Regions from separate parts of the Homo sapiens genome. Here region 2 is linked to region 1. The links come from fine-mapping of genetic effects on gene expression. A gene starts in region 1. The other region holds a variant in brackets. All regions are shown on one strand. Distances are between the middles of the regions. Region 1 holds the start of EZH2 (enhancer of zeste 2 polycomb repressive complex 2 subunit). Region 2 has its middle 25 kb from the start of EZH2.

Evidence for each region.
Region 2: its variant is fine-mapped to the expression of EZH2 in esophagus mucosa (GTEx, PIP above 0.99). The same link has a PIP of 0.9 or more in sun-exposed skin.

What each region holds. Positions count from the first base shown.
Region 1 is chr7:148,879,285-148,894,774 of GRCh38, reverse strand. It overlaps EZH2 (enhancer of zeste 2 polycomb repressive complex 2 subunit), which reads left to right and starts at 10,484. Exons shown (of 20, transcript NM_004456.5): 1 at 10,484-10,611. LOC124901767 (a long non-coding RNA gene) reads right to left here and starts at 9,586. Exons shown (of 2, transcript XR_007060579.1): 1 at 9,292-9,586; 2 at 6,979-8,418. It also overlaps the pseudogene RN7SL569P. RefSeq lists silencers at 9,851-10,080, 10,201-10,570, 10,731-11,320 and an enhancer at 10,539-11,230.
Region 2 is chr7:148,901,761-148,917,250 of GRCh38, reverse strand. No RefSeq gene overlaps it. Among named protein-coding and RNA genes, the nearest start is that of EZH2, 25 kb to the right of the region's middle. The variant G/A (reference allele first, on the strand shown) is at 9,102.

The DNA of each region.
Region 1 (15,490 bases):
TTAAAATGGCTGCTTTTAAAAACATATGGCTCCCAGCTGAAGTTTTATCACTGCTGTTTTTCTTCCCAGAAGATTCTATACCAATTTGATAAATTTCATCAGTGGGAAAATATTTTCTCCTCAACTTAGGAATGATTTTCTGTAATTGGAGATGTTTCTCACATGTAAAATACTGAATCAGAGCATGTTCTTTTAATGTCAGGAATGTCTTTAGCCAGCAGTTATTAGTACACCAAGAATTGCAAGGCAACATGTTAATAGACTGTCATAGAACTTGTACAAAACTAGAGTTGCCTTGTCTTTCCAGTGGGTGACCTGGGCCAACAGGCCAGATATCAGCAGCGAGTGTGTGCGACGGTACTCTGCCTGCCGGCCCACGTGTCTAGGACAAAAGGTGACAAGAGAACTTTGCAGCTCAAACTCACCAAGGACATGCAAGAGTTTGAGGAGGGCATCACCCTGGATTGGGAACAGTGGATAAGATCAAGTTCAGGATCTTGTTGACAGAAAGATCTTTTATCCAGAGAGTTAGATTTCCAAGCTCACTCACTCTATCCAGTAACCCCATTCCCATCAGGAATGCCTCTGTCAGAAATCTGATTTCTGTCCTGGTTTCAGGTTCCAGGTCACACATGCTGCCTTGAGGTCCTAGGTAATGATGACTCTAGGGGTAAAGGAGTTAACTGCCCCGCCAACCATGGAAGTGGGCTGCCGAAGGCCACCCAGCTCACTCTGGCCTTGGGAGCAGGTCTAGGTTGTCCCATCGCTGACCTGGCCAACTTCTTACCTTGGCATAGCTAACTACTCCTCTGCTCCAAATCCCACATCCCTTCCTTGCTTTCCTCTTGCTTGCTTTCTTGAGGAATCCTCTACGTCTCCATGACCTCCAACCCCCCATCTTTATTCCTGTAGCTGGGACTACAGGGCATAAAACAAAATAAGCACTAAGTAAATGTCTTTTGAATGAATAAATGAAGGGTCGTGTACAGCCCAGATTTTCCAATATTTTTGCAAACATTTTGAACTGTTTTACGTTTGTCTAATTATACTGTTTTTTTTGGGGGGGGGGGTAATGAGTTCTTTAAGCTAGTTACCAAGTCAAGTAATTCTCAACTGTTATCAGTAGACATTGCAGAGAATGCAAGAAGTGCTTTTTCATTGAAACACGCTGGAAATCAGTGAAAAAGAAACTGTGTTCATTTTATCCTGGTAGTATATATTTTCAGATAGTTTGAACACTTGATTCACTTCTTGACCTTTGCATTTTCAGCCTAAAGATCAATCCCTTGTCTTCATTTAACGGAATCTCTTTTCTTTTCCCTCCCTAACCCCTACCTCACTCTCTCTCTCTTCATCTTTTTAGGTGCAGTGATCAAACATGCTTGTAGTATTTACTTTTGTAGATACCTCCAATTTTTTTTTTTTTTGTTAAGTTTGATCATGGCTCACTGCAGCCTCAACCTCCTGGGCTCAAGTGATCCTCCCACCTCAGCCTCCCACGCAGCTGGTATTACAGGCACAACCCAGCATGCCCTGCTAATTTTTATATTTTTTGTACAGATGGGGTTTCACCATATTGCCCATGCTGGTCTCGAACTCCTAAGCTCAGGTGACCTACCCACCTCAGCCTCCCAAAGTGCTGGGATTACAGGTGCAAGCTACCATGCCTGGACTGTTAAGAAACTTAGATAAACAAGATCATAAGATAAATATTCTCTGTCTTCTTTCACTTAACACTATATTTATCAGATTCATTCACATTGTTGTATGTAGCTATAGATTCTCTGCATCATTGTAGGATATTCCATTATGTAAATTAACCACAATTTATTCATTCTACCTTTGATGGGCATTTGGATAGTTTCCAGTTTGCATTATGAACTTTTTTGTACATGTCGTTTGTTAAGTGTATATGCATACAAACATATACTTGCTAGAGCTACACCTAGAAGAATGGCTACGGTATGGAGTATTCCATATTTGTTCAAGTTTCACAGGTATTATCTCTTCTCAAATTTCCAAAGTGGCTGTACCAACTTGCACTTCTATTAGCAGTGCATAAAAATTTTCACTGCTTCATATCCTTACCTACACTTGGTATCTTCTGTATTTTTTCATTTTAGCCATTGGGTAGGTATATAGTGGTATTCCATTATGGTTTTATTTGCATGTCTCTGATAACTAATGAAACTGGGCACCTTTTTATATGCTTATTGGACATCTGTATATCCACTTTTTTAGGTGCCAGTTTATTAAGGGTATCTCCCTTTTGGCCATTTCCTAACATTTTCTTTTTCAAATCGTCTTGTGGTTTATATGATCTGTATGACAAGTGTTTTGTTAGGGAAGTGTATTGTGAATTTCCCCTATTCTTTGGCCTGCCGTTTGAATATCCTAATGGTGTCTTTTGACAAACAGAAGTCTTAAATTTAATATAGATCAATATATGAACAATTGATCAATATACGATCAATTGATCAATATACCACTTATTTCCTTTATGGTGAGCACTTTTTTTTTTTTTTTTTGAGACAGAGTCTTGTCCTGTTGCCCATGCTGGAGTGCATGGCACGATCTTGGCTCACTGCAACCTCTGCCTCCCGGGTTCAAGAGATTCTCGTACTTCAGCCTCCCGAGTAGCTGGGATTACAGGTGCCCACCACCACGCCCAGCTAATTTTTGTATTTTTAGTAGAGACGAGGTTTCACCATGTTGGACAGGCTGGTCTTGAACTCACGACTGCAGGCAATCCACCCGCCTTGGCCTCCCAAAGTGCTAAGACTGTAGGCGTGAGCCACTGCACCCGGCCGTTTATGGTGAGCACATTTTTGATTCTGTTTAAGAACTTTTTGACTATTCCAAAATCATTCTGTTTTCTTTTACATTTAGACCAGCAACTCATCTGGTTTGAGGCAGGGGTCAAGATTTCCCCTCCCCACCCCGTAAGGATAGCCAGTTGACCCAAAACCAATTATTGAAAAGATGATCCTTTCCCAACTGCACTGAAAAGCCACCTTTGTTATAAACCATATAGGTATGAGTCTGTTTCTGGACTCTTTGTTTCCCATTGGTCTATTTGTTGACCTTTGGGGCAGTATCACTGTCTTAATTACAACAGCTTTAAAAAGCTAGGTTTTGGCCGGGCATGGTGGCTCACGCCTATAATCCCAGCACTTTGAGAGGCTGAGGCGGGCAGATCACCTGAGGTCAGGAGTTCGAGACCAGCCTGGCCAACATGGTGAAACCCCATCTCTACTAAAAATACAAAAATTAGCCAGGCATGGTGGCAGGCACCTGTAATCCCAGCTATTTGGGAGGCTGAGGCAGGAGAAACGCTTGAATCCAGGAGGCGGAGGCTGCAGTGAGCCAGGACCATGCCATTGCACTCCAGCCTGTCCAACAAGAGTGAAACTCCATTTCAAAAAAAATAAAAAGTAAAATAAACAGCCAGGTTTTGATATTTGGTAGTAAAGTTGCCCAGTTTCATTCTTCTTTAATTCTCTTGGCTCTTTTCGGCCTTTTGCATTTTGCATGTATTTTAGAATCAACTTGTCAATTTCTACACACAACACAGATGCAAACGCACTCACAAATCCTGCTGGGATTTTAATTGGCATCATGTTGAATCTGTGCATCTTCCAAATCATAAAAATGACATTCCCTCTATTTAGGGCTTTAAAAAAGTTTTCCTCAATATTGTTTTGTAATGCTTTGTGCATAGGTCTTACACATCTTTCATCAGATGACTAGATATTTGATATTTTCCCAAAGGTAAATGGTATATATCACTTTAAAAGTTTAATTTCCTCTTTATTGTTATACACAGAAATGGACTTTTTTGTAAACTAAGTTTGTATCCAGTGACCTTGTTAACTTCACTCATTAATTCTAATACTTGATGATTACTTATACAATTGTGCGGTTTTGTTTCCATGTCTTATCCTTTCCTAAAACCATTTTTTTTTTTTGAGGCAGTCTTGTTCTCTTGCCCAGGCTAGAGTTCACTGGCGTGATCCCAGCTCATTGCAACCTCTGCTGCCCAGGTTCAAGCAATTCTCGTACCTCAGCCTCTCGAGTAACTAGGACCATAGGCATGCGCCATCACACCTGGCTAATTTTTGTGTTTTTAGTAGAGATGGTGTCTCACCATGTTGCCCAGGCTGGTCTCGAATTCCTGAGCTCAGGCAATCAGCCCACCTCAGCCTCCCAAAGTGCTGGGATTACAGGTGTGAGCCACCACGCCTGGACTTTAAAAAAAAAAAAAAGATGGGGTCATGTTGTTGCCCAAACTGGAGGGTAGTGGCTATTCACAGGCATAATCCCACTAGCAGTGATCAGCACAGGAGTTTTAACCTGGTCCATTTCCAACCTGGGTCGATTCACCCCTCCTTAGGCAACCTCGTGGTCTCTAGTTCCTGGAAGTTCACCATACTGATGCTCAACTTGGTGCAGACACCTGATCAACACAGCCCACTACAGCCCAGCACTCCTGGGCTCAAGTGATCCTCTATGTCCTCTCTTTGTACAGTATTTTTTAGTCTTTATTGAGCTTCTCCTTTGTTACAGCCCAGAATAGTGGTAAGTTCTTTGCTTCCCCAAATCCTCAACAGTCTTTTACAAGACAGGTGTCCCATCTGGAAAATGATACTCTGCCCAGGGGTTGTTTGTAACCATATTTTGGCCAAGTACTCCTCAGTTTCACACTTGAATTTGTTTAAAACAGCCAGGGAATTTCTAGATAGTCTAAAGGCTTTTATCTATTTTAGTCTACTTATTTTGTTTGATCAAATTTCTTTCTTAAACGTCTTAAAATGGTAACATCTTGATCAGTTTAGCTGAAACTCTGTTTGGGAAAGTGAGTAATACAATATGGCTGGAACTTAGGGTGGTGGAGCTATGAGATAAAGCTGAAATAGCAGCTTGTTACAGCCAGAGGAAGGGATACAGGAGCTGGGAGGTCACGATCTCCTCATTATGTGATTTTGGGGATAACATCCCATTCTTTTTGTGGCCATATCCTATTAGAAGCAAGTCAATAGGTCTAGCCCACAACAAGGGAGAAGATTACACAAGGCAGTGAATACCAGGAGGTGGTATTAATAATACGGGAGCATTGGCCAGGTATGTTGGTTCACGCCTGTAATCCCAGCACTTTGGGAGGCCGAGGCGGGCAGATCACCTGAGGTCAGGAGTTCGAGACCAGCCTGGCCAACATGGTGAAACCCCATCTCTACTAAAAGTACAAAAATTAGCCAAGCATGGTGGCGCGCACCTGTAATCCCCGCTACTCGGGAGGCTGAGGCAGAACCGCTTGAGCCCAGGAGATGGAGGGTGCAGTGAGCCAAGATTGTGCCACCGTACTCCAGCCTGGCCAACAGAGCGAGACTCTCTCTCAAAAAAACAAAAAAATAAAAATAAAAACAAAGCCAAAAAGGAGCATTTTAGAGGCTGGCTACCACACCTTCCTTGGGTTTTCTAGAGGTGACTCTTTCAAGCTGGTTCCGAAAAGGATCAGGTTAATTTCAATCACAACCAAAAATTATGTTATCTTTATGAAGGTTTCTCGACATGCCACACATCTCCTGACCCCAGCCTGGGGTGTGTTCCAGGCTGCAGTATAATGCCACTCTGGCTCTTCATGAGAGCTCATCCCTTCTCAGGCTTCTTGTATTGAGAACTGATACTTCTTACATGCAATCTTTCTTGTATCCTATATCCAATCTGTCAGGAAATTCTGTTGCTTATACCTTCAAAATATATCCAGACTCCACTTCCCACCAGCTCACTGCTACCACTTTGGTCTGAGCCACAATCATTTCTTGCCTGGCTTATTACAACGGACTCATCACTGTCCTCTCTGATTTGGCCCCGGCTCCGCTTCAGGATCCTTTCAACACAGGAGCTAGAATGATCTTGTTTAAATGATCAAATCGCCTTTCCACTCAAAATCCTCTCATTTTATAAAAGATAAAGACCTAACTATGGTCCACAAGGAGCTGAAAAATCTGCTTGTGCCGCCTCCATTCTTCAACATCATTTCCCACTTTTCTTCCCCTTCCTGTGCCAGAGCACATCAGCCACGCTTCTGCCTCAGGCCCAGGCACTGACTGGCCCTTCTCTCTGCCTAGAACAGTCTTCTCTCAGTAAATGCTCCCTCAGCTCCTTCAAGTTTTTCTTCATATGTCACCTTCAAAATGAGGGCTTCCTTAACCAAGTGGCTTTTAAAAAATTATTTTATTCCCAGGCTGGAGTGCTGTGGTCCCATCTCACTGCAACCTCCGCCTCCCAGCCTCAAGCGATCCTCCCACCTCAGCCTCCAGAGTAGCTGGGACTATAGGCACCATGACCGGCTAAGTTTGGTATTTTTGGAAGAGATGAGGTTTCGCTATGTTGCTCAGGCTGATCTAGAACTTGTGAACTCAAGTAATCCTCCCATCTCGGTCCCCAAAGTGCTGGGATTACAGGCGTGAACCACCACATCCAGCCCCAAGCTGTTTTAAAATTACAGCAATTGCACCCAATACTCCCCTCTTCCCATGCCTTATTTTTATCACCACCTCATGTTCGGTATAATCATCATTCACAGAGTAAGCACTCCATAAATGAGTGCTGTATAATATGTGGGAAGTAAATCCCATTTTTGGGGTTGAAAGGGAGGTTCTGAGAAGTGAAGGGATGGAAAGGGAAGTTTGCTGGCTGACAGCCTTAACTTTGCACTCCATCTTCTCCAGTTCCCCCAGGACAACCCTGAGAATCAGCTATGTGCCGGGCACGCTAGGCCCTGGGGTTACAACTTTGGGGCTTAACTGTTTTTCGTTTCATCTTTTAACTTTAATACCAAATCTTTGTTGTTCACACAGAACAATCTTTACAGAAATGAAAAAGCTTGGTGACCCTCAACCTCCATATCCACCTTTGTGTTTAGCCTGGCTTTCTGCTTCATCTAGGCCCCTTGAGTAACTGGCATTCACACACACACTTGCTTATATGTTTACTATTCATTACACACATTAAAAATTTTTTTTCCCATTGAAATAGTCATAGAGGTCTGTTAAATAGGCCTGTATATTTTCTTGCTTTCCTGGGTTAGACATCTTCAGACAGTTTTTCTTTTGGTAGCAAAAGCAAAATACTTCTTCCCCCTCCTAACTTTGCTGTATTTGTCATATACGGAAAGGAGTCGCGAGACATCATGAACCCCACATACAATGAAGTCCTTCTGGAATATTTTCAAATTATCCCCTTTTTCTGCCATTACTGTGGCCTAAACTACCTTGCTTAAATGGACAATGTCATCATTGAATCAAGAAAATACTGTGATCCACTGGCATCCCTTTTCACCTTAGCCTTCATATCATATTTATATTAAATGTCTGTTATATATATTTAGTATCATCCCACCTAGCTCTTTAATGGTTAGAGTCCAACCTACACACTCTTCCCAGTGGGAATGGCTGCTCTATAAAGTTCTTTGTACGTGTTTTTTTTTTTTCCTAACATTCACTTGGTGCCAATAATTATATTTTGTCCAATCACTTTTTTTTTTTTTTAAAGAGATAGGGTCTCACTCTGTTGCTCAGGCTGGAGCACAGTGATGTGATCATAGCTCACGGTAACCTTGGGATCCTGAGCTCAAGCAGACCCCTCACCTCAGCCTCAGGGGCAGGTGGGACCATAGGTACTTCTGTGCCACCACACTCAGTTATTTTTTAAATTTCTTGTAGAGATAGGGTCTTGCTATGTTGCCCAGGCTGGTCTCGGAGCTTCCCACCTCGACTTCTGAAAGTACTGGGGTTACAGGTGTGAACCACTAAGTCTGGCCTGGAATATCTTGATCCATCCATTCCTTGATTCTAAACGTCTAGCAATTTACATGACATTTCACACCATGTTGCAGAGTTATATACTGCTTTGATTTGCTTTATGGTAGTCTCTAATTTCGTTGATCTTCCTCTTAAAAATGCCTTGTTTTAATATTTAGTATTACAGGACTGATAAGTTCAGTAATTTGATAAGCAACTTAGGGATAAGTAGTTAATTTCTGAGGTTTAAATTGCTGGTTTTAAAAAATTGTAAATTGGTGGCCTAGACAGATGCATTTTATCTTGGAGAATGAATGTATTCGTGACTGGAAGTAATGGCAGCTATAATTCGTTACGTTATTTTACAGTCACATCTCAGCTGCATAACCTATTTACTTTTTGCAGTGTTATCACTGATTCACAAGACAATTTTGCTTTTATCTGGGCACATGATTGCTTGTTTCTCCTTATCTTTTAGCTTCCCTTTATATATACTTTCCAACATTGGAGTGATTCAGAATATATGTGAGGAATGGGATGGTGATTTAGGAAAGGCGGGAAAATTATGGGCTAAATCATCTGATGAAAAATTCTGGCCCAGCGCAGTGGCTCACGCCTGTAATCCCAGCACTTTGGGAGGCCGAGACGGGCGGATCACAAAGTCAGGAGATCGAGACCATCCTGGCTAACACGGTGAAACCCCGTCTCTACTAAAAACACAAAAAATTAGTCGGGTGTGGTGGCAGGCACCTGTGGTCCCCAGCTACTCGGGAGGCTGAGGCAGGAGAATGGTGTGAACCCGGGAGGCGGGGCTTGCAGTGAGCTGAGATGGTGCCACTGCACTCCAGCCTGGGCGACAGTGTGAGACTCCGTTTCTTAAAAAAAAAAAAAAAAAAAAAATTCTGGCTAGTTATTAAATTCATTAAAAATATTTCTTCAGATTTTTACCCCAACAGTTCATAGGTGACCTTTTTTCAGTTTCCAGTATGAACTCTCAATATGGAATCTCAGTTTACATGACAATGGTATTTTACCCCATAGATACATCCTAGTAAAAATAAATTCGGAATACTCTTAACTGCATTGCCACATGAAGCAATAGGAGAGACTGTATCCTAAGCAGAATCCCTCTAATTCCTCTGGGTTGAGGTAGCTTGACCCCCCATAACCAAGATCAATTTTTTTTTTTTTTTTGAGATGGAGTCTCGCTCTGTCGCCCAGGCTGGAGTGCAGTGGCGTGATCTCGGCTCACTGCAAGCTCCGCCTCCCGGGTTCACGCCATTCTCCTGCCTCAGCCTCCCGAGTAGCTGGGACTACAGGCGCCCGCCACCACGCCCGGCTAATTTTTTGTATTTTTAGTAGAGACGGGGTTTCACCGTTATTAGCCAGGATGGTCTCGATCTCCTGACCTTATGATCCGCCCGCCTCGGCCTCCCAAAGTGCTGGGATTACAGGCGTGAGCCACCGCGCCTTGCAAATATCCTCACACTTTGCAGAGGCGGCAAGTGAACAGTGCTCATCTTGATAAAGGATTTTTAACACTGACACGTGCTTAGAACTACGAACAGTGGAAGGGTCTGAAATGGCAGCAATGTCGCCCTTTCACAGGTTTCTAGGGCGATAAGCACTGCAAGCTCGGCCAGCCAAAGTCCAGCGGTGGGGGAAAAAACGGCCAAGGCAGCAGCAGACATAATCAAACAGGGCCCGGGTCGGCGGCGGTGGCTCACGCCTGTAATCCCAGCACTTTGGGAGGCCGAGGCGGGCGGATCACCAGAAGTCGGGAGTTCGAGACCAGCCTGACCAAGACCCGTCTCTACTAAAAATAGAAAATTAGCCGGGCGTGGTGGCGCATGCCTGTAATCCAGCTACTCGGGAGGCTGAGGCATGAGAATCGCTTGAACCCGGAAGGCGGAGGTTGCGGTGAGTCGAGATCGCGCCATTGCACTCCAGCCTGGACAACCAGAGCGAAACTCCGTCTCAGGAGAAAAAAAAAAAAGTAGTAACGGGTCCGGCGGCAGCGCGCGGGCCGGGCGAGCGTCTCCCGGCAAACGCGGCGCCACAGCTGAGCCGACCTCCGGGGCCCGCGCCCTCCCCTCCCCGGGCACCACTAGGAGCGGCCAGCCCGGGCCTCGGCTCCGCGCGCGGGGAAACGAGCGCGGCGGTTAAAACCGTTACCACCCCCGAGTTTTGAACTGGTTCAAACTTGGCTTCCAGCACCCGCCCCGCCCCTCCCCCGCCCGGGAACTCTGCGGCGCCGGTTCCCGCCAAGAGCCGCCGGCGCTTCGTCCCGCCCTTCGGCCGGTTCCCGCCACCTATCCTCCCCGCCTCCCGTCCGCGGCGGGCTCCGGGCCCCCGCGATGTCTCCCGGTCCCCGCGTGCCTGCACACCGCCTTCCTGAGAGGCGCCGTGTGTTCAGCGAAAGAACAAAGAGACGGCGGCGGCGCTTCCACACGGCCAGTGGCGTCCCTTACAGCGAACCCCGCCGCCGCCCGCGCGCGCACGCGCTGCCAGTGCCCGCCCGCCCACGAGCCCTGAGCGCACTCTGCGTGGGGCTGGCTCGGCGCCTCCGAGCCCGGCGGGCCCTGTGATTGGACGGGCGCCCGCCTCGCGTCCCGCCAATCGGGGCGGCGCTTGATTGGGCTGGGGGGGCCAAATAAAAGCGATGGCGATTGGGCTGCCGCGTTTGGCGCTCGGTCCGGTCGCGTCCGACACCCGGTGGGACTCAGAAGGCAGTGGAGCCCCGGCGGCGGCGGCGGCGGCGCGCGGGGGCGACGCGCGGGAACAACGCGAGTCGGCGCGCGGGACGAAGGTAACGCGCCGCTGCGGGCGGCCCGGCCGGCGGGGCTCCGGGAGTGCGAACCGGGCGGCGGCGGCGGCGCCAGGACCTCCCCGCCACTGCTGTGCCGGTCCCGGGTATCGCCGAGCGGGGCTCACCGGGGCGCCGCGTTTGTAGGCGTGCGGGGGGTGGAGGGTGAGGGGAGAGCCCCCCTCCCCGGAAGGAGCTGTGAGCTTCGGGCTGGCCCGCGGGACCCTGCGAGTGAGGCAGCGCACACCCCTGGAGCTGCGGGGCGGGGGGCGTGTGGGGGGCTCCTTTCCCGGTGCTTGTCCTGGCCGGGGCGCCGGGGCCGGGGTCGGGGCGTTCCGGTGCCCGGTCCAGGGTGGCAGCTCGAGCCTCAAGTCTCCTTTGTGTGGCGCGGCCGCGGCGGGAGCGCCCGGGTGGGACGGGACAGACACAAGTTGGTGGGACCCAGCCGCCGAGTCCGCACTCAGACAAAGGACGGACTGTGTCTCCGGAGGGCTCGGCGCGAGGGGAAGGGGCATGACACCCGGGCCCGCCGGCGGGCGGGAGAGGGGCGTGGGGAGGCGCGGGCCGCTGCCGGGGTGGGCAGGGCTCGGCCCTCGCCTCGCGCACGCCCCCGGTCCCGGGCGCGCCGACCCCGGGCTGGGGCCGCGGCGCTCGCGGGACGACGTTCGCGGCGGGGAACTCGGAGTAGCTTCGCCTCTGACGTTTCCCCACGACGCACCCCGAAATCCCCCTGAGCTCCGGCGGTCGCGGGCTGCCCTCGCCGCCTGGTCTGGCTTTATGCTAAGTTTGAGGGAAGAGTCGAGCTGCTCTGCTCTCTATTGATTGTGTTTCTGGAGGGCGTCCTGTTGAATTCCCACTTCATTGTGTACATCCCCTTCCGTTCCCCCCAAAAATCTGTGCCACAGGGTTACTTTTTGAAAGCGGGAGGAATCGAGAAGCACGATCTTTTGGAAAACTTGGTGAACGCCTAGTGAGTTGCCACTTTCTAAAGAATCGTAATCCTTAAACATTACAAGCTGTTTTGGCCAACTTGTGTGATACATCTGAGAATGGCGACAGGTGCTAACGAAATCAACTGTCATTCAGCCAGATTATTCCCCAAATCCCGACGGGTTGAATGAGGATGAGGTGGTAGAAGTAGGTGATCAAAATAGAATGGCTATGACAAATGTGTGTTTAGATTATACGGTTAGCAGTTTCTTATTAATTGGTCTCGTTTTCTGTGAACAATAGCTTTGGTGATTCAGAAAAGACTGCATGGAGAAATGTTTGTTGCCTAAGAAATTTAACGTGTGCTGTCCACAGTTAAACTTCCTTTATCACACAGGATCTGTAACATTTAAATTCATTTGGAAATAAAAATGTGTCTTTGCTATTTACTTAAAGGCTTGCTTTTTAGGGTTCAAGCAAGTTATTATTAGTTTAATTTTGTGGCGTTTTGATGTCATCATAAAACAGCATTTAATAAACCTTTGAAAAACACGAATGCTGTCACAATTGAATGTAGTTTATACTTTTAGGGGTTTTGGAGTTTATTTTCTATTACTCTTCATAAGCATTAGCAACTAATTCATGTTTAGGAATACTGTACAAGTGTGTAATCCTAACTTGTTTATTTGTAATTTTATTTGCAGGAAAACAAGTATTTAAGATATATTTTAATTTTCTATTCATGGTCTCTAAAGTTAGGAATAGGTAGGATTCTAGTCATAGATATAAAGCGTCTTGTTCTCTCTTTTCGGAGGTGTGTTGGGTGATGTAATATTTAAGGTTTCCCGGAAACAGGAACACTGCATCTTAAATTCTCGTTTTTGTGGAAAGTGAATATATTCCAAGAAAACAAGTTAGAAAAACATAGGCGTTCTTCTGGTTGCACTGTCCTATATGATAAAGATCTAATGTGCATCTGCTAACTTAAGGTTTCATAAAAATGGAGACAAATAAATGCAATATAAATTTATTACATATATTTTGGAGAGTGTTGACACCACTGTACGGGCATTCCAGGTGCTGGTCTAAGTGTTGAGACATTATAACAAAAAAGTAACGTTTATATTAGTTACTATTAATTCTGTATTTAAAAAATCCTATTAATAATCTTGTCCATTATGAGATAAGGTAGTTATGCAGATTTTTGGCAGAAATTCGGATATTTTAGGATACATATGTGTGTGTGTGTGTGTGTGTGTGTGTGCGCGCGCGTGTGTGTGTGTGTATATGTTTTTTTTTTTTTGAGACAGAGCCTTGCTCTGTCGTCCAGGCTGGAGTGCAGTGGCTGGATCTGGGCTCACTACAATCTCTGCCTCCCGGGTTTAAGGAATTCCCCTGCCTCAGCCTCCCGAGTAGCTGGAACTACAGGCACGCACCACGACACCCGGCTAATTTTTGTATTTTTAGCAGAGACAGGGTTTCACCATGTTGGCCAGGCTGGTCTCGAACTCCTGACCTGAAGTGATGTACCCGCCTCCGCCTCCCAAAATGCTGATCCAGACGTGAGCCACCACGCCCAGCCTAGGATAAAAATTTCTAACTTTGCCCTTGAGTGTTCTCTGTATTTGATAATTACTATTCTTTGTACTTGCCATGAGATATTTTGAAAAACATCTCTTTGGGGAATTGGTTTAAAAATTCATATTAAATTATTTTCTGGTACAATTGAGAATGTATTTAGTCAGTTTAAGTAGCAGTGACTTAAAACACACTTGTTGATCTAGTGTAGTTAGAAAAAGTTCTGATACTTTGATACCTAGCTTTGCCTTGCACAAATACATTTAAGTGAATATCTTTATGTTGGCCATTTAAAAATTTTAGGCAAATTTCTCCAAGTCATACTGGAATTTTCCCAGGATACCTTCCTTCTTTTGAGGTAGTGTGCTCAAGGATTCTGAATTTATTTCAGTATTACCCTTTACATGAGCAGTGATTGAGAAAGTTGATCTGCTTTTTAAAAACCAACAAGGACAAATCCTCCAATATAATGTATTCTGTGGTTAATTAGCAATGATTTATGGATTAGCCTTGAAGTCTTTATATCAGTATAGATGACAAATTTTCTGTAAATCATGATAGATTCTATATGAGTAGGTGAAATCTTCGGGGGAGAGCATAAGTGAACAGCAGCAATTCATTAAATTCAGAGAAAGGTTCATGGTCAGATGATACATACTTTACCTTCTGGAGGTCTTCCCTGAATTCCCACTCTTGTGTTCCCACAGGGTTTTATCATATTTTATTGTAGCATGACTCAATTGTATTGTAATCACTTGTTTATGCATCCCTCTCTTCCCTACAGTCAAAGTGCCTCCTGGTAGAGGCTCTGTCTTATTTTTTTCTTTGTATACCTAGTACCTACGTTGGTATTTGCTAGAGAATAGGGGTTTTAAATATAGTTGAATGAATTAAGGAAATATGAAAAATGTAGGGAAATAATTTGACAAAGGAACTTGCAAAGTGAACAGGATATGTTAGTATTCATGTGAGGAACTTTGAAATGTGTTTTTCTCCCTCTTTAATAGGGAATGATTACAAAGAAAAATAGTTGTCAAGGTGAACAAGTTCCAAGTTTTTCCTAGTTATAATCTGTAGTACTAAACATTAGATATCCTTTAGATGCAACTATTACACTCGGACAACTGGAGAGAACTTGATGAATCATCTGGATATTTAGTAATAGTATTTGCTTAATTTGATTTAATGTTGATATTGATGATCTCTTTGCAAAAATATAAGGAAGGGAAAGGGCGAGAGAGGGTAGTAGATCTTTTAACTGAAAAGCTGTTTTGTTATAATTCATGAGTTCTTTATTGGAGTAAATTGAGGTAGGTTTTGGAGCTAAAACTGAAGGATGTAGCGACAGTGTAATTGGATCATTTATTGGGATGCTTTTCATCATTCTTTTAAAATGATTTAAATACAGATTAGCAAATTTAGTGATACCTCAAAAGTTACAGCTGGTAAATTTCTAAGATAGTTGCACCATTCCATATCTTGCCACTGTTCCACTACTTGGTATAAAAATATGACAAATTTGTGTTTAGATTATGTGGTTAGCAGTTTCTTAATAATTGGTCTTGTTTTCCATTAACAATAGCAAGACAGAACAAGATCATAGCTCACTGCATCCTTAAACTCCTGGGCTCAAGGGATCCTCCTGTCTCAGCCTCCTGAGTAACTGGTATTACCAGTGCACACCATTGTGGTGACTTATTTAATTTTTTAATTTTTTGTAGAGATGGGATCCTGCTTTGTTGCCCACGTTGATCTCAAACTCCTGGCTCCAGGCAATCCTCCTGCCTTGGCCTCTTAAAGTACAGGGATGACAGGCTGAGCCATTGTGTTTGACCCAGATACTTTTTTTTTTTGAGACGGAGTCTCGAAAGTGATTCTTGTGCCTCAGCCTCCTGAGTAGCTGGGACTACAAGCGTGCGCCACCACGCTCGGCTAATTTATTTATTTATTATTTATTATTTATTTTTTTGAGATGCAGTGTCACTCTGTCACCTAGACTGGAGTGCAGTGGCACCATCTTGGCTCACTGCAACCTCCACCTCCTGGGTTCAAATGATTCTCCTGCCTCACCTCTCAAGTAGTTGGGATTACAGGCATGCACCACCAGGCCTGGCTAATTTTTGTATTTTTAGTAGTGATGGGATTTCACCATGTTGGCCAGGCTGGTCTCGAACTCCCGACCTCAGGTGATCCACCTGCCCTGGCCTCCCAAAGTACTAGGATTACAGGCGTCAGTCACTGTGCCCAGCCTCCGATAATTTTTATATTTTAGTAGAAACTGGGTTTCACTGTGTTGGCCAGGCTGGTCTGGAACTCCTGACCTCAAGTGATTGACCTGCCTCGTCCTCCCAAAGTGGTGGGATTATAGGTGTGA
Region 2 (15,490 bases), 22 kb before region 1:
CCCAAAGTGCTGGGATTATAGGCATAAAGTACCGTGCCTGGCTGGGCTGTGCTTTTTCGATTTGGTACCATGTGCTTGGTCCACATGTTAAAAAAAATTGTTAAAAGATTATATATTTTTAAAAAGATTATATTTAGGTTCACAAGCCACAAGATAGCAAAAGAATCTGCTGGATATTTTCTGTCTCCTCTCAGCGGCCTTCTTACACATAGATGTTGGTTGTATTCTTCCTCCGTCAGGGCTTCTAAACCCATCAATGGTGAAAGACCAGTTTTGTTTTGCTTTTTATTTCTCCAAAGGCTTATAGACTGATACTTTAGTACAATCAATAAAAATGAATTACTGGTAAAATGAAATTAAAAAACAACAGAAACATACAAAATTCAAGGTCCAATTTAAAAATTATTAGATGGAGCAGACATACCATTCCTCTGTCAAATTGCTTTTAACCAGTGGTTAGTGGTTCTCAACCAGGAAGAGGCAGGGAGGGCTCTTGATTTTGCCCCTCCACCTCTGAGGACATTTGACAATAGCAGAGACGTTTTTGCTTGTCCCCCCTGGGGAGGGGGATGCTACTAGCATCTCATGGGCAGAAGCCAGAGATGCTCAGAAGCATCTGACAGTGCAAAGGACGGCCCCCACAACAAAGAATTATTGGGCCCCAAATCAGTAGTGCCAAGGTTGAAGAATCCTGCCTTAAAAGTTTCTACATTGCTAATCTCAGTTTTTTGTATTTATCTCTTGGCAGAATGGTAACATTTTTGGACTGTGGTCCACAGACCACATTTTGAGACGACTGCCCTTACATACTTGAACTCTGACCCAGTAAGGTTGCCAGACAAAACACAACTGGATTCTCTAATCCTTTAACTTTGTAAGGCTTCTGGATAAACAAAATAAGAATGAGCACAAGGGAATGAAGCTTAGTGATGTAATCAAATGAAACATAAATTATTCTCTGCAGTCTGCAGGACTGGGGCTTAAAGCCTAGCTTTGTTACTTCTTAGCTGTGTGAGCTTGGGAAAGCTATTTTTAAAAAATCTTTTAATTTGATTTTTTTTTTTTTGAGACGAAGTCTTGCTCTGTCACCCAGGCTGGAGTGTAGTGGCATGATCTCGGCTCACTGCAATCTCCAACTCGCTGGTTCAAGTGATTCTCCTCCCTCAGCTTCCCAAGTAGCTGGGACTACAGGTGTGTGCCACCACGCCCCGCTAATTTTTGTATTTTTAGTAGAGATGGGATTTCATCATGATGGCCAGACTGGTCTCAAACTCCTGACCTCAGGTGACCCACCCACCTTAGCCTCCCAAAGTACTGGGATTATAAGCGTGAGCCACTGCACCTGGCCTGGTTTTTAATTAAAAAAAAATTTTTTTTGGTGGAGATGGTGGGGGGAGGTGTCTCACTATGTTGCCCAGGCAGGTCTTGAACTCCTGACCTTAAATGATCCTCCCGCCTCAGCCTCCCAAAGTGCTGGGATTACAGGCGTGAGTCATTGAGCAAGGCTGGGAAAGCTATTTAATATCTTCAGACTGTCATTTTCCCCTCTGTGGAGTGGGGATAATGCCCTCTTCCTATGGCTGTGCGAGGATAAGTGTGATTTTTGGTATGGAGAGCGCCTAACCCACAGAGGCACCTGATAGTTGAACCTCTCCGTCAAAGGTCACTGAGAGCCCCAGAGCGTTCTTCTCAGTCTTTTTATTTCTGCAGTGGAGCCCGAGGCAACACCCCTCACATTTCCTCCTCCTTCTCCGAAGAGTGGGGCTCACCAGGAACTTTGAACTGCCAGGTACCTGAGTGAAGGGCAGGTCCTAACTCTTCAGAGACGATTCCAGGAAGCTGCTTTGTAAAGTGGAAAGTGTGATGCAAATGTTAGGAATCGCTTCGTTGGTTTCACTGATATTGACTGGGCCCCTACTAGATGCCCTTAATATAAAGCAGTGGCAGGCTGGGCATGGTGGCTCACATCTGTAATTCCAGCACTTTGGGAGGCTGAGGTGGGTGGATCACCTGAGGTCAGGAGTTCAAGACCAGCCTGGCCAACATGGTGAAATCCCATCTCTACTAAAAATACAAAAATTAGTGGGGCATGGTGACAGGCACCTGTAGTCCCTGCCATTTGGGAGGCTGAGGCAGGAGAATTGCTTGAACCCGGGACGCGGAGGTTGTAATGAGCCAAGGTTGCACCACTGCACTCCAGACTCCATCTCAAAAAAAAAAAGAAAAAAAAAAAAAAGAAAAGCAGAACTAGGCTCCCATTTGTTCACGGGTATTAAATAAAAATGATCAGGGAGGAGGGGAAAAGACGATTCACAAAGGAGCTTCTAGTCTGAGTTATAAGGTAGCCACAGTGCAGTCAGCTCAGGCATTGGCAGGAACTACTGGGGGGATGTCACCCAACAAATTCCACCTTCACCTTAAAAAGTAACTGTCCAGCTGGTCCTTGCCTTCCTGTCCAGACCCGGAGCAGTGGGGCCCATGCACCTGGCACCTGACTTGCTGCAGGGAACCACAACAGCGTGTTCCTGTTCTAGGAACTGGGAGAGGGGTGAAGGGTGGCTGTGGGCCCAGCTGGAATGCTGGCCTCAGTGGAGGAGGTGCAGAAATGCCTGGGCAAGGCCAGGGGCAGACCCTCCCATCAGCGGGGAAAGGCCCTTGGCAGGTGGCACCAGAGGGGGCCACATGGTAGTGTGCCCAAACAGGGGCCCAATAAAGTCTTTACTTCCCTAGCTCTCTTTCTTGAGAATACTTCCCTCTGTGTCATAATTGGAATGTGTGAGTCATGCTCTCAATCTCCGAAAACTCAGTGCTCTTGGTTTGTCTGAGTCCGCAGCAGGTGCTGCGGGGGAGGCTGCGGGAAGCTGAGGACTTGCAGCCACTGAGGCCAGAGCTTCCCTGGACAGCACCGAGGCATGAACGGCATTGCACCGAAGACAGGGCTGGGTGGGGAGAGGTATGGCTACAGAACACACCTGTTAACTACCGGTAGCTTTCTGGGGGCAGAATCTGTCTGTCTCAAGCCCCCCAGGATTGCAGCCACCTCTCCCATCGCAGTCCCGCCACTGCTTCTGCTGCCAGGCAGGGCCTGGAGATATGGCTCTTGGCCACCTTTAGTACACAAGGTGCAGGCAGGCCCTGATAATGAAGAGAATTAAGACAGTTTCTCTCCCACAGACACTCACAGCCTAGACGAGGAGATGAACCATCAACAAATAATTTAACAAAGATTTGGGAACAGAGTGGCAGAAGCTATTCCTCTGCCCAGGAACAAAGAATCATTCCTTTCTGTTTCCATGTGGGCTCCTGACACAGATACTCAACAAGCAGAGCCAACATGATTGATCTTACGCCCTGATTATGTGGCAAACATGTTTGCATTTTACGATTGTTCATTTTAATTCGTATTATCAGGTTTTGCTACCATGGCAGAACATAACGGTCTTAAACCCTGCATGTTAATCCCAGTTATCCAAGACTTCCCATGATACACTATAAAAATGTCTTTTTACCCCGCACATGCTTATGTCACTATCTTATATCTTATACAATGTGCCTTTCATTTCTAAAAGCAATTCATTCACATAAATGTTCCTGCAGATTGTTAAAGCCTTAGACTCTGGGACCAGGCATAATTGGAGAACGAATCAGATGTATGTTTCAAAGAAACAACCCCAACACATATCCAAACGACATTTAAGATTTCTTCCTATTTCACAGGAGATGACTTACGAGTGAACACTCACCCTTTTTTGGTATGTTAGTCTCATATTACCTTTTGCTATTAAACCAGGCATGGGTACACTTTCCAGGGCTGAGCTTTATTGCACATGAGCCCTGTGACTCAACTTTGCCATAACCAGGTATTTTGGGGGCTTTTAAAAGTATGAAGACATTGCTAAGATTAGTAAAAACAGAACCTTCAAAGTCATGAACACTGAAAGTACAGAAATAAATCATTTTAGCTTTTGATGGTTTGATGAAACTTTCTATTCACTGGCTTCCTAATTCATAAGCATCAAAGTAAAGGAAATTGTGGTGACATGATTTTGCAGTCATAATTTCTGAGCCTCAGAAATGCATTCAGCTGAATCGAATGTAGTATCTTTCTTTTAATTTGAAATGGGTAAAATACAGATCCACAGTTTAAGAATCAAATTCAGTTTAACAATTGGAAAGAACCTTTGAGAAACTGTGTTCCAAACACATTTTACAGGTGAATACTATCAGAATACAACCGGTTGAGGACCAGGCAGGCCCCTTAACTTCCCCAGGGCTCAGCTTCCTGATCTGTAAAGTTAGGGGCTGGGCTGTATGAACCCCTAAATCCCGTTTCACCTCAAACGTATTTCAGGATTCTAGTAAAAAGGTGCTGAATGAACGAAGCTAATCCCGAGAGAGACTTGGATTTGCCTGAGATCATGCAGTTAGTCAGGGACAGACACACATCCTCTGACTCCCGGCCATTGCTCTTTATAGAGAACAGGTTTAGAGTAAAGATCTTGAATTAAAAAAAAAATTACACAGAGATTAATGAACAGAACACCTTATAAAAAAAAAACAACACACAACTCTATATGAAAACCAAGTCACGCAAACTTCTGAGCAATATGTTTCAGTAACCTGCACTTTTAAATCATAGACTGGCAGCTATGATTTAAGCACCCTTAGACATCCAGCTTGTGTCCCTGGCATGACCAGGTATGCACTGGAGGAATGTCAGCCAGTGTACTGGCTTCTTCTGTTACATCATGAACTTCTCCAAAATGGAGAGACAACAATTCATTATACCATGATCTCTCATTATAGATTGAATTGTATCCCCCAAAACGACATGTTGAGGCCCTGACCTCCACTACTGTATCTGTGAAGGGGACCTTATTTGGAAATAGGGTCTTTGTGATGTAATCAAATTAAGATGAAGTCATTGGGGGGTGGGGGTGCTAATCCAGTATGACTGATGTCATTATAAGAAGAGGGAAATTTGGACACAGGGAGAAGACGGCCACATGAAGATTGAGGCAGAGATTGGAGTGATGCTGCCACAAACTAGGGAATGCCCGGGGCTACCAGAAGCTGCAACAGACGAAAAAAGGGTCCTCCCCTAGAGCCCTCAGAAAGAGCATGGTCCTGCCAACACCTTGATTTTAGACTGTTAGCCTTTAGAACTGTAACACAATGAAATCGTGCTGTTTTAAGCCACACAGCGTGATACCTTGTTATAGCAGCTCCAGCAAACAAATACACCTCTCATGTCTCTGTTGGGTTGACTGGGCTCACTGGAGTCCTTCTCACTCAGGGTACTGCAGAGAGTGGCTGGAGCTGGCATCACCTGAAGGCTCAACAGGGCTGCATCCAAGATGATGCACTCACATGGCTGCAGTTGATGCCGTCACTGGCTGGGGGCTCAGCTAGGGTGTGGACCAGCTCATGGCCTCTCTGTGGTGTGGAATTATCAAAGCATGGCAGTGTCACTCCAAAGAGGCAGGAAGTAGAGACTGCTGTGCCAGTAAGGCCCTGGCTGGGAATGGGTGTGGCATCTGTTCTGCTACCTTCTATTAGTCAAACCCATTAAGGAGGTGTAGCAAGGTGAATGCAGAAAAGCATGTGAGTTGGGAGAAAGTGCTGAGCCATGATTGGAACATACAATCCAGCTCAACAATGTTTAATAGGATAAGTGAATGTGAACCTACTAGAAATCATGTAATTCACTGTTAAGCCAAAATATTAGTGGATTTAGAAAGTTATTTGAGATATTCGGAGCCATTGCTTCCCTCTGTTCTTTTTTTTTTTTTTTTTTTTTTTTTTTTTTTGAGATGGAGTCTCACTCTGTCACCCAGGCTGGAGTGCAGTGGCACGATCTAGGCTCACTGCAAGCTCCGCCTCCCAAGCTCAAGCGACTCTCCTGCCTCAGCCTCCTGAGTAGCTGGGACTATAGGTGCATGCCACCATGCCCTGCTAATTTTTGTATTTTTAGCAGAGATGGGATTTCACCATGTTGGCCAGGCTGGTCTTAAACTCCTCACCCGCCTCTGCCTCCCAAAGTGCTGGGATTACAAGCCTGAGCCACCATGACCGGCCCCTCTGTTCATATTGATTAACAAGATTAGGTTGTAGAAAACATGATTCCTCAGGACAGTTACTGATATACTGGGACCCAGAAGAGCTACTGCAGCCCCCAAGGGTTCTATATGACAAGGAGGGCTTCTTCAAACCAGTTTTCCCCCCAGAATCTTCATCACCCCTGAATCACAGCTCAGGAGACTGGAAGAGATACTTCCTCTCCCTGCTTGGAATCATTTGTTACAACTGTTATACTATGTTCAGTGATCCCCTAGCTGATGGGGAAAGATTCTCCCTGAAGCACCTAGCAATTCCTTAGTCAGCATGCCTTTGTTAAATGCTTTCTGGGGGTCAGCATTGTGTTGGCTGTTGATGCCTGCAGTCTTGAGAGATGGAGCTGTGAAAACTTCTGTATTCCCCCTCTTTCTTTCTCCTTTCTGAACTGTAGGAGGTGTGGGAGCTCTGAGTCTTGGAGCCATTTGTGTCATGTCTCTGTCTTTAGATATTCTTTTTCCCACTGTGTGGGCCTGAGGAGGCCCCTGGAGGCTGCAGCAGTGAGGCTGGACCATCTTGGTTATCTGGTTCCCTTTCCTCTGACAGGGTAGGTGAGCTTTTTATGAGCTGGAAGGTCTCAGGTGGTGCTAGCACCTGCAAGGACCACCCTCTGGAAGACAGATTCCTGCTACCTGTTTGGGGGAGGATGTTTAGAAGAAAGAAAGGCTGCTTAGAAGGGTGCCAGAAACAGGTGCTTAGAAGAGAGAATGGTGCAGCAACCATTTGGAGAGGGCTGCTTTTGGGTTCTTGCTCTCCTTGTGGGGTGGGGGTGGGGGATTGTGAGGCTGTGGCTTTTTTTTGTTGTTGTTGTTATTTTTGAGCTGGAGTCTCACTCTGTCACCCAGGCTGGAGTGCAGTGGCATGATTTCGGCTCACTGCAACCTCCACCTTCCAGGTTCATGCAATTCTCCTGCCTTAGCCTCCTGAGTAGCTGGGATTACAGGTGCCTGCCACCCCGCCCGGCTAAATTTTGTATTTTTAGTAGAGACGGGGTTTCACCATGTTGGCCAGGCTGGCCTTGAACTCCTGACCTCAGGTGATCCGCCTGCCTCGGCCTCCCAAAGTGCTGGGATTACAGGTGTGAGCCACAGTGCCCAGCCGGGGCAGTGGCTTTCATATTGTACATGTTCAAGCCCTTGAAGACCTTTGGTGGCATCAGGGACCACCCAAAGGGAGGAGTGAGTTAAGAAGGGGGGGAAACTTTGGACCCCTTATTTAATTTTTTTTTAAACAGACTTTATGTTTTTAGAGCCTTTTTAGGTTCACAGCAAAATTCAGTAGAAAGTGGAAGCTTCCCATATACTCCCTGCCCTTTGCCCCACTCCCCCAGCCTCCTACACCATCAACATCTTGCATCAGAGCGGTGCGTTTGTTACGATTGATGAAGATACATCACATGTCATTATCACCCACAGGCCATAGGTTAATTAGGGAATACTCTTGGTTGAGTCATAATAGTAGTTTCACTGCCTCAAAAATCCTCTGGGCTCTGTCCCTGCCTCCTCCCAGATCCTGGCACCTGCTGATCTTTTCACCGTCTCCTTAGTTTTGCCTTTTCCCTCACCGCTTTTCGACCAGAGCTGATCTGTTTTCATGTTGGTCTTTTGTTTAAAAATTCATTCGAAGACTAAATTGTACTACTTAAAAAGAAAAAAAGGAATAAGGATACAAGTTATCAGGCAGTCCTATTCCTTGTTAGCTGTGTGATCCTGGGAAAATCACTTCACCTCTCTGAAAGTCAATATTTCATCCACAGAATGGGAGGAATGATGGCTGTCTCGCATCAATACTGTTAAATATGGAAAGTATCCGACAAGCACCTGGCGAATAGCAGAGGCTCAACAAGGACAGGTTTCCTCCCTCTGCTCATCCTGCTCCTTCTCCCATTCAGTCACTGAGTTCAGCCCGTTTCGTCTTTAGAGTTTAGAATTTCTCTCTTCTCATCCTCATCACAACTCCTTTCTGGTTCAGGCTTGATCTTATTCAGAGTGTCTACAAACAATGATTATCCCACACATCTGTGCTTAACGCTCACCTTTAATGCAACAAAATGTGTAGATATTGCTTGGCAATTTGGAGATGAGTGTAGGTAGATTCCTAGGGGTTGGCCGGTGAGTTCTGCTGGCTGTTCCCGAGTGCCGCTTTCTGGGGTCTTTTCCTTCACTCTGACAAACTGCCAGGGGACTTGGGTGGTTCCTGTAAGGGGCTTTCATGGTGGTGGCAGGCTATCCATTTAGAATTCCACTTCCCAAATTCCTTACACACCAAGCTATTACACTAGCTAGCACTAATCTCACAAGATACAGTGTAACAGCAAACAACCACACCACACACACATAAGACCTTAGCAGGGTAGCTTCCTGGATGGTGTCTCCTTAAATTCTCACCTTTGGGTGTCTTTTGAATAAGCCCTTCCAAATAAAAGGCCCTCATTCTGTCTCTCACTGGGACTGCTCTGTCATCTCCGGAGTGGTCTCTAGCCCTGCCCCCAATCCGGGATTTGAGAAATAGGTCCTAAGATGAGCAGAATTGGGTAACTGACTGGAAGCTGGAGATGAAAGAAAATGTGAGGGTGAGTCCAGGAAATTGTGGCAGTGTCACCAAGTAGAGCAGGGAACACAGGAGGACCCGCAGCCCACAGGTGTGGACCCCGGGCAGGCTGCCGGATATGTGCATATAAAGCTGAGTGAGTCCTTTGCGGGAGGCTTGTTTTGATCCACCTGATTTTCCCAGCCTACCTCTTTGGAGACATCTGTTTCCTCTTATTTCCAAGGTCTGGGGAGGGAGCAAATCATTCTCACCCCATGTGCTGTCTACAAGACAATTCTTGTATGGCTTGGCATTTAGTGTGATGCCTTATGCTTTGTGGTGCGATACATCTAGTGTGTAGAAACGTGAAATACTGGTTTATCCTTTAGCTGAACTGACTAGTTGTGTTTTGATACTGTGTATTCATGCATATTACAAATACACACACATGGCTGGGC[G/A]TGGTGGCTTATGCCTGTAATCCCAGCACTTTGGGAGGCCGAGGCAGGTGGATGGCTTGAGGTCAGGAGTTCAAGACCAGCCTGATCAATATGGCAAAATCCCTTCTCTACTAAAAATACAAAACTTAGCCAGGCATGGTGGTGCACGCCTATAGTCCCAGCTACTCAGGAGGCTGAGGCAGGAGACTCATTTGAACCCGGGAGGCTGAGGTTGCAGTGAGCCAAGATGGTGCCATTGTACTCCAGCCTGGGTGACAGAGCGAGACTGTCTCAAAAAAAAAAAGGAAAAAAAAAAAAAAGAGAGAGAAACAGAGGGTGAGAAAGAAAGAATGCTAAAGCCAGTGTGGTAAAATGTTAACAATGGGGAATCTGGGTGAAGGATATATGGGAATTCTTTGTACTATTTTGCCAACTTTTTTTCTCAGTCTATAACTTTTTCAAAATTGAAAAGTAAAACAAAAATTAGTTTAATATATGCTATAGGACCCTTTAAGGACTGAAACGGGGTGGTGGAGGTGGGGTGTGTGTGTGTGTGTGTGTGTTGGTGTTGGAAGTGGGTAGGGAGCACCAAAAACTTGATGGCATCAGCTGTAAGGAAACTGGTGATCACCCCACATAATCGCGGATAGTCACCTCAGCTGCTCAGTTGTTTTGAGAAACAATCTTTTTGCTTTTTCTAGATGCAAAGAGGTATAATTGAATAAGTCACAGCAGAAAATGAAAAGATGATCTGTTTTCTGTTACAGCGATTGTGAAATGCACATAGATCTCAGCCCAGAAGGAATCAATTTGACTAACGTAGATGTAAAATCAAAATTAATAGAACTATAATCCCTTTGGTGATCTGCATTTGTTCTGAATGATCTTATCAAACGTTCCTGGTGAGACAGGACACAATATGATTGCTAAGACACCAGGAGTGGGGAGGGCAATAAGTCAGATGGAGAGAAGATACTAGATGTCATGTGCTTCCCTTGCTTAGAGAAAATGGATGAAGTGAGATTGAGATACCAACTGTAGAGCCTGGACTGCCGAACCAGGATCCTGACCTTAGGAGCCCCTTCGTGATGTGAATACACCGGCTCAGACTCAGATGTGTCCAGAGCATGTGGTCCTGATTTGTATCAGGGCACTGGAGGCTTATGAATGATCCCCAGACTCAAAGGAAACAGAGCACCCTTAATTACTTAAGTCTTGTTAAAGTCCAGTACCATCTGCTCCAACAGGTAGGTTTCACCAGGAAGACAGTCAGGGAGGGTTGCTTATGCAACAAGTGTTTATTAAGTGCCTTCTATGTATAAGGCACAGTGCAGAACGATGGAAATAAAATGGAGAATAGGATCTATACCATCGGAGGACTCATAGGCTGGAGGCTTCTGACCAAGGAATTCCCATACAACCCAGTTTCTCCACGTGTAAAAGGGGAGACCTACCCCCCTCACATGCTAAACATGAGATTAAATGAACTGAGGCCAGGTGCGGTGGCTCAGGCCTGTGATCCCAGCACTTTGGGAGGCTGAGGTGGCCGGATCACCTGAGGTCAGGAGTTTGAGACCAGTATGGCCAACATGGTGAAACCCTGTCTTTACTAAAAATATAAAAAGTAGCCAGGCGTGGTGGCACATGCCTGTAGTCCCAGCTACTCAGGAGGCTGAGGCCCGAGAATTGCTTGAACCTGGGAGGCGGAGGTTGTAGTGAGCAGAGATTGCGCCACTGCACTCCAGCCTTGGCAACAGAGTGAGATGCCATCTCAAAAAAAATAAATGAATTAAAAAAAAAAGAATTGATATATGTAGAGCAAGCAGTAAACACTTGGCATATATCCAGTGCTCAGTAGTTGCTGGTTCCCCCTCTGTCTCTTCTCCAGGGTTCTCTCCTACCTGAGCCGTCTTTGGTTACTCTGAATCTTGCCCACTCTGGTCTGTCCCGTCAGGATAGTTCCACGGACCTAACTCTTGACCTTCTGCTGTTGTTTTAACCCAGATACCCTAAACAACGCCTGAACTTGTCCTTACAGTGCCTCCCACCCTTGTACTAAGACCTCTCACTATAGGGCTGACATTTATTTGGTTAGGAAAGCCATCTGGCTTTAAAATGTGCATATATCTGGGCTGCAACAGCGATTTCAATTTGTAGATTTCACCATGGTTGTTCTGTGAAGCAGTGTTCAGGTTTATTAATTTTATATGCATTGGAGTTTTTGAAATTGTTAGTTCGTATGTATGGAAATAAATTTTCATGAAACGAACCACAAGTTCTGTTATATAGGACGTCTTTAATACCACAGTAAAATAGCTTTTAGATTACTAGAATGTCAGGTTTCTGCTAAAAATTTGTGTCACAAAAGGGAAAAAAGAAAGCATGGATGAAATACAAAAAGAAAAAATAGATGTGAAGTTACTGTAGTTTTGATTATGTTTAGAGGGCAATTTTTACGGTTTTCCCAGGGACCCAGACCTTTCTCCATCCTACGAAGAAGGCCTGTAAAGGTTGGGGTGATTTATCTCAATTCCACTGGTGCTCAGGAGCAACCTAGGCCAGCTGGAGTCGAGCTAGAGGCTGAGCCAGAAGGAAATAAGAGGCCAAAGTAAGGGCTGCAATTGCAGGCAGCCTCCAACAAGCACCTGGTTAGGTAACTGGGCTCAGACGTGGAGGAAACAGGATCTCACAGCCTCCGGGTTGAAACCTTAGCCCAGACCGGCCCAAGATGGAACCCAGCTGAGGCTCTGCTTGCTAATGAGCCCTGCCTGCTCTGTGGACCAAGGGTGGAGGAATATTGATGTTTCAGCTTGATGGTTTTCACTGAAATCACATCAATGGCTGTCTGCCTGAGAAAAGGCAGTTTAGGGTGCTCTTTTCTCCTTGGAGTTAATTTTCCCATCTGCCCCAGGCCAGAAAGCCACGGGAGATATTTCATAGCTGCTTACAGAATGATTCAGGTCTTCACAAAATCAAAACTATTAATAGTACAAAGTACAGAATTCAGCAGAAAGCAAGAAAACGAGCCATGGAGAATGTCTGTTGTTAGAGAAGCAATGTGAAGAGTTGAACCAGAAGCTTAGATATTTAAAAAAGCACAAAGTTGCACGTGATACTGCTTTACTGGGACTGACAAGGAAATAAAATGGAAAAGCAAATTATCCTACTCCAGTCAAAAAAAAAATTATTTTCACATATTTCCCACAATTTTTGTTCTACTCCCTTTATATACTTTTCTCTCTGCCTAAGAATGAATTTTGAATCATCATTCTGCTGCCAGAAATTTGTCTCACATTACCAAGTGTGTTTGCAAAGTAAGGATACTGATTTCTGCAAATCACGCCTGAGAATCAATGTCATTATTTCATAATCAAAGTATGTACACTATCTGTTTAGCAGATATAATTAGAGACATTGGCAATCTCTGATTTTACTTGTCAGAATATGGAGTTTGGACTTATTTCAGAACTTTGCATTTTCAAAATAGTTTATACTTCTAAAAGTAATCTTACCTTATTTAATAACTTAATATTATCTGCTGCCCTGCCCCCATTTGATAACCCAAGTGAGATTATCACTAGATTGTCTCAGATTATAAATTCTTTGTCAGCAGGGATTAGACCCCTGCAGTTTCCTGTATATAATATTTTGCAATTAGATGTTTGATAGTGCTTTGAAATAGGAACTCAGTTTTTAACTTTTGGTCTTTTTATTTTCAACATAATGAACCATGAAATAGTGAAAATTCCATTTTTCTTGTTATACGATTTTAGGCATTGTCATTTTTTCCAGTTACAAGCTCAGTTACAGAGAGAAGGAATTATACTACCTCTTACAGAATCAGCAACCAACAGACTCACAACACAACCAACTGGAAAAAGCAGAACAACCCAGGAGCTGTATACTATGGAAGACCAGGTTGAAAGACTGGGCTGACTTTAGGTCGGCCTTCTTCATGTAGTCACCCACAGATGGGTTTTAGGAGCTCTGGACATCCCCCAAAATTCCTTGTTGGAAAATTTGGGGGTGAATTAGTGTCTGTTGCTTACTCAGATGCTCAAAGAAGCTCAGGTATCCCCACTTCCCTCAAAAAGGTAAAATCACAATTCTGTGTTTTCTGTTTTCCTGCTTCCATTAGATTGAGAAGGCAATGTGTTTAAGGGCAGCTAAGGCAACGTGCAGATGATGCTTGGGTACCTTAGAGTCATTTCCTCTCTTCTTTCTGCTAACAGAACCCTGACTTTGCTCAGGACAACAGTGTGCCCAGCCTGAGGAGATCATTCTTGATATTTGAAATCATGACAAGCTCATTCTCTTTCCTTGTAAATATCCCAGCTGCCCTTTAAGCTAGGACATGTGTTCCATGGACATGTGTTGCCTTTCTTGCCAATAAGATGCAGAGAAGTCTTCAGGGAGGCTTCTGGAGAGCTTCTGCTTTCTTGATACATGATAAAGTAGGGGCTGACTCAGTCCCTTCCCCTTCTTTCTGCCTTGAATTTGCATGTGATACTTGGAACTACAGCAGCCACCTTGCAACCATGAGTACACGCATGAGGATGATAAGCCAATATGCAAAATGAGAAGACAGAAAGAGCCTGAGTCTAATGAGTTTTTATGAAGCTGGCAGACCAATCCTGATATGGACTTTCTCTGAGTTTCTTGTTAAGTAAAGAGTAAACCATCCTTATGACTTAAGCTATAGTTAGTAGAGGGTTTCTGCTACTTGCAGTCAAATGTGGGCCTCAGTGGATACAGTGAATAATCTTTTATGGCTTAAAATACAATAAATTGATTCTGTTAAAAAGTACCACTAGATGATGTTTTTCAATGAATTCTGCGAACTATATTATTTTGCTAGTCTTCTAACTACGCCTGCAGGAAGTGCAAGGGAAAAATCAGGAGTGAATAGAGTGATCACCTGCGTTTAAATGGTATTCCTCCTGATATAAAAAAGAGTGGATTTTATCTTATTTTTGGTCTGTAATACTCAATGAATGGAAATAGTTATATAGGCAGAGACTACACCTCTACTTCCAACTGACATGGACATTGTTTCTATGCTTTTCTGCTCCAAAGATTTCTTTTTCTTTTTCTTTTTTTTTAAACTTTAATTTTAGATTCAGGGGTATAGGTGCAGGTTTGTTACATAGGTAAACTCGTGTCATAGGGGTTTCTGGTACAGATTATTTTATCACTCAGGTTAGTAACCAAACAAGCATTTATAACTTGATAAAATTCTTGTACTATTTCATCATATTGCCTGCATACAGGTATAAAAGAGCAACTCATTTATTAAGGTTTAAATTTTTTGGCCGGGCACGGTGGCTCACACCTGTAATCCCAGCACTTTTGGGGGTGAAGGTGGGTGGATCACTTGAGGTCAGGAGTTCTAGTCCAGCCTGGCCAACATGGTGGAACCCCATCTCTACCAAAAATACGAAAATTAGCCAGGCGTAGCAGTGCACGCCTATAGTCCCAGCTACTTGGGAGGCTAAGTCAGGAGAATCGCTTGAACCTGGGAGGCAGAGGTTGCAGCGAGCCGAGATCGTGCCATTGCACTCCTGCCTGGGCAACAGGGCAAGACTCTGTTTCAAAAAATAAAAATAAATAAATAAATAAATGTTTTTGTTTGCTCTCTATATATATGTTTTTTGAGACAGAGTCTCGCTCTGTTGCCCAGGCTGGAGTGCGGTGGCATGACCTCGGCTCACTGCAAGCTCCACCTCCAGGGTTCATGCCATTCTCCTGCCTCAGCCTCCCGAGTAGCTGGGACTACAGGCGCCCACCACCATGCCCGGCTAATTTTTTGTATTTTTAGTAGAGACGGGGTTTCATCGTGTTAGCCAGGGTGGTCTCAAGCTCCTGACCTTGTGATCTGCCCACCTCGGCCTCCCAAAGTGCTGGGATTACAGGTGTGAGCCACTGTGCTCAGCCAAAAAATTTAAACCTATGCCCAGCTGTTTGCATTATATTTTTTATGTGTTGTAAAAAAGCTGGCTGGGCATGGAGGCTCACATCTGTAATCCCAGCAGTTTGGGAGGCTGAGGTGGGAGGATCGTTTTAGGCCAGGAGTTTGAGACCAGCCTGGGCAACATAATGAGACCCTGTCTCTATGAGAAAAACAAAAGAAAAAAAAGAAAAAAAGCCTATTTGGACAAGTAAACCACTTGGAATTTTAAAATCAACTTCTATTGTATTCAAAGATAAACCATTTAAAAATATCAAGGAAGGAAAAAGCCACTGAATTAAGTTAGCATATTCTCCTCCAATAAATTTAATTATATGTATTTCTATAAATTTACATACTACTTCATATGCATTTATGTATATATTTGTGGATTATTACTTTCATTTTTTAGAGACTGCGGTCTTGCTATGTTGCCTAGGCTGGTCTCAAACTCCTGACCTCA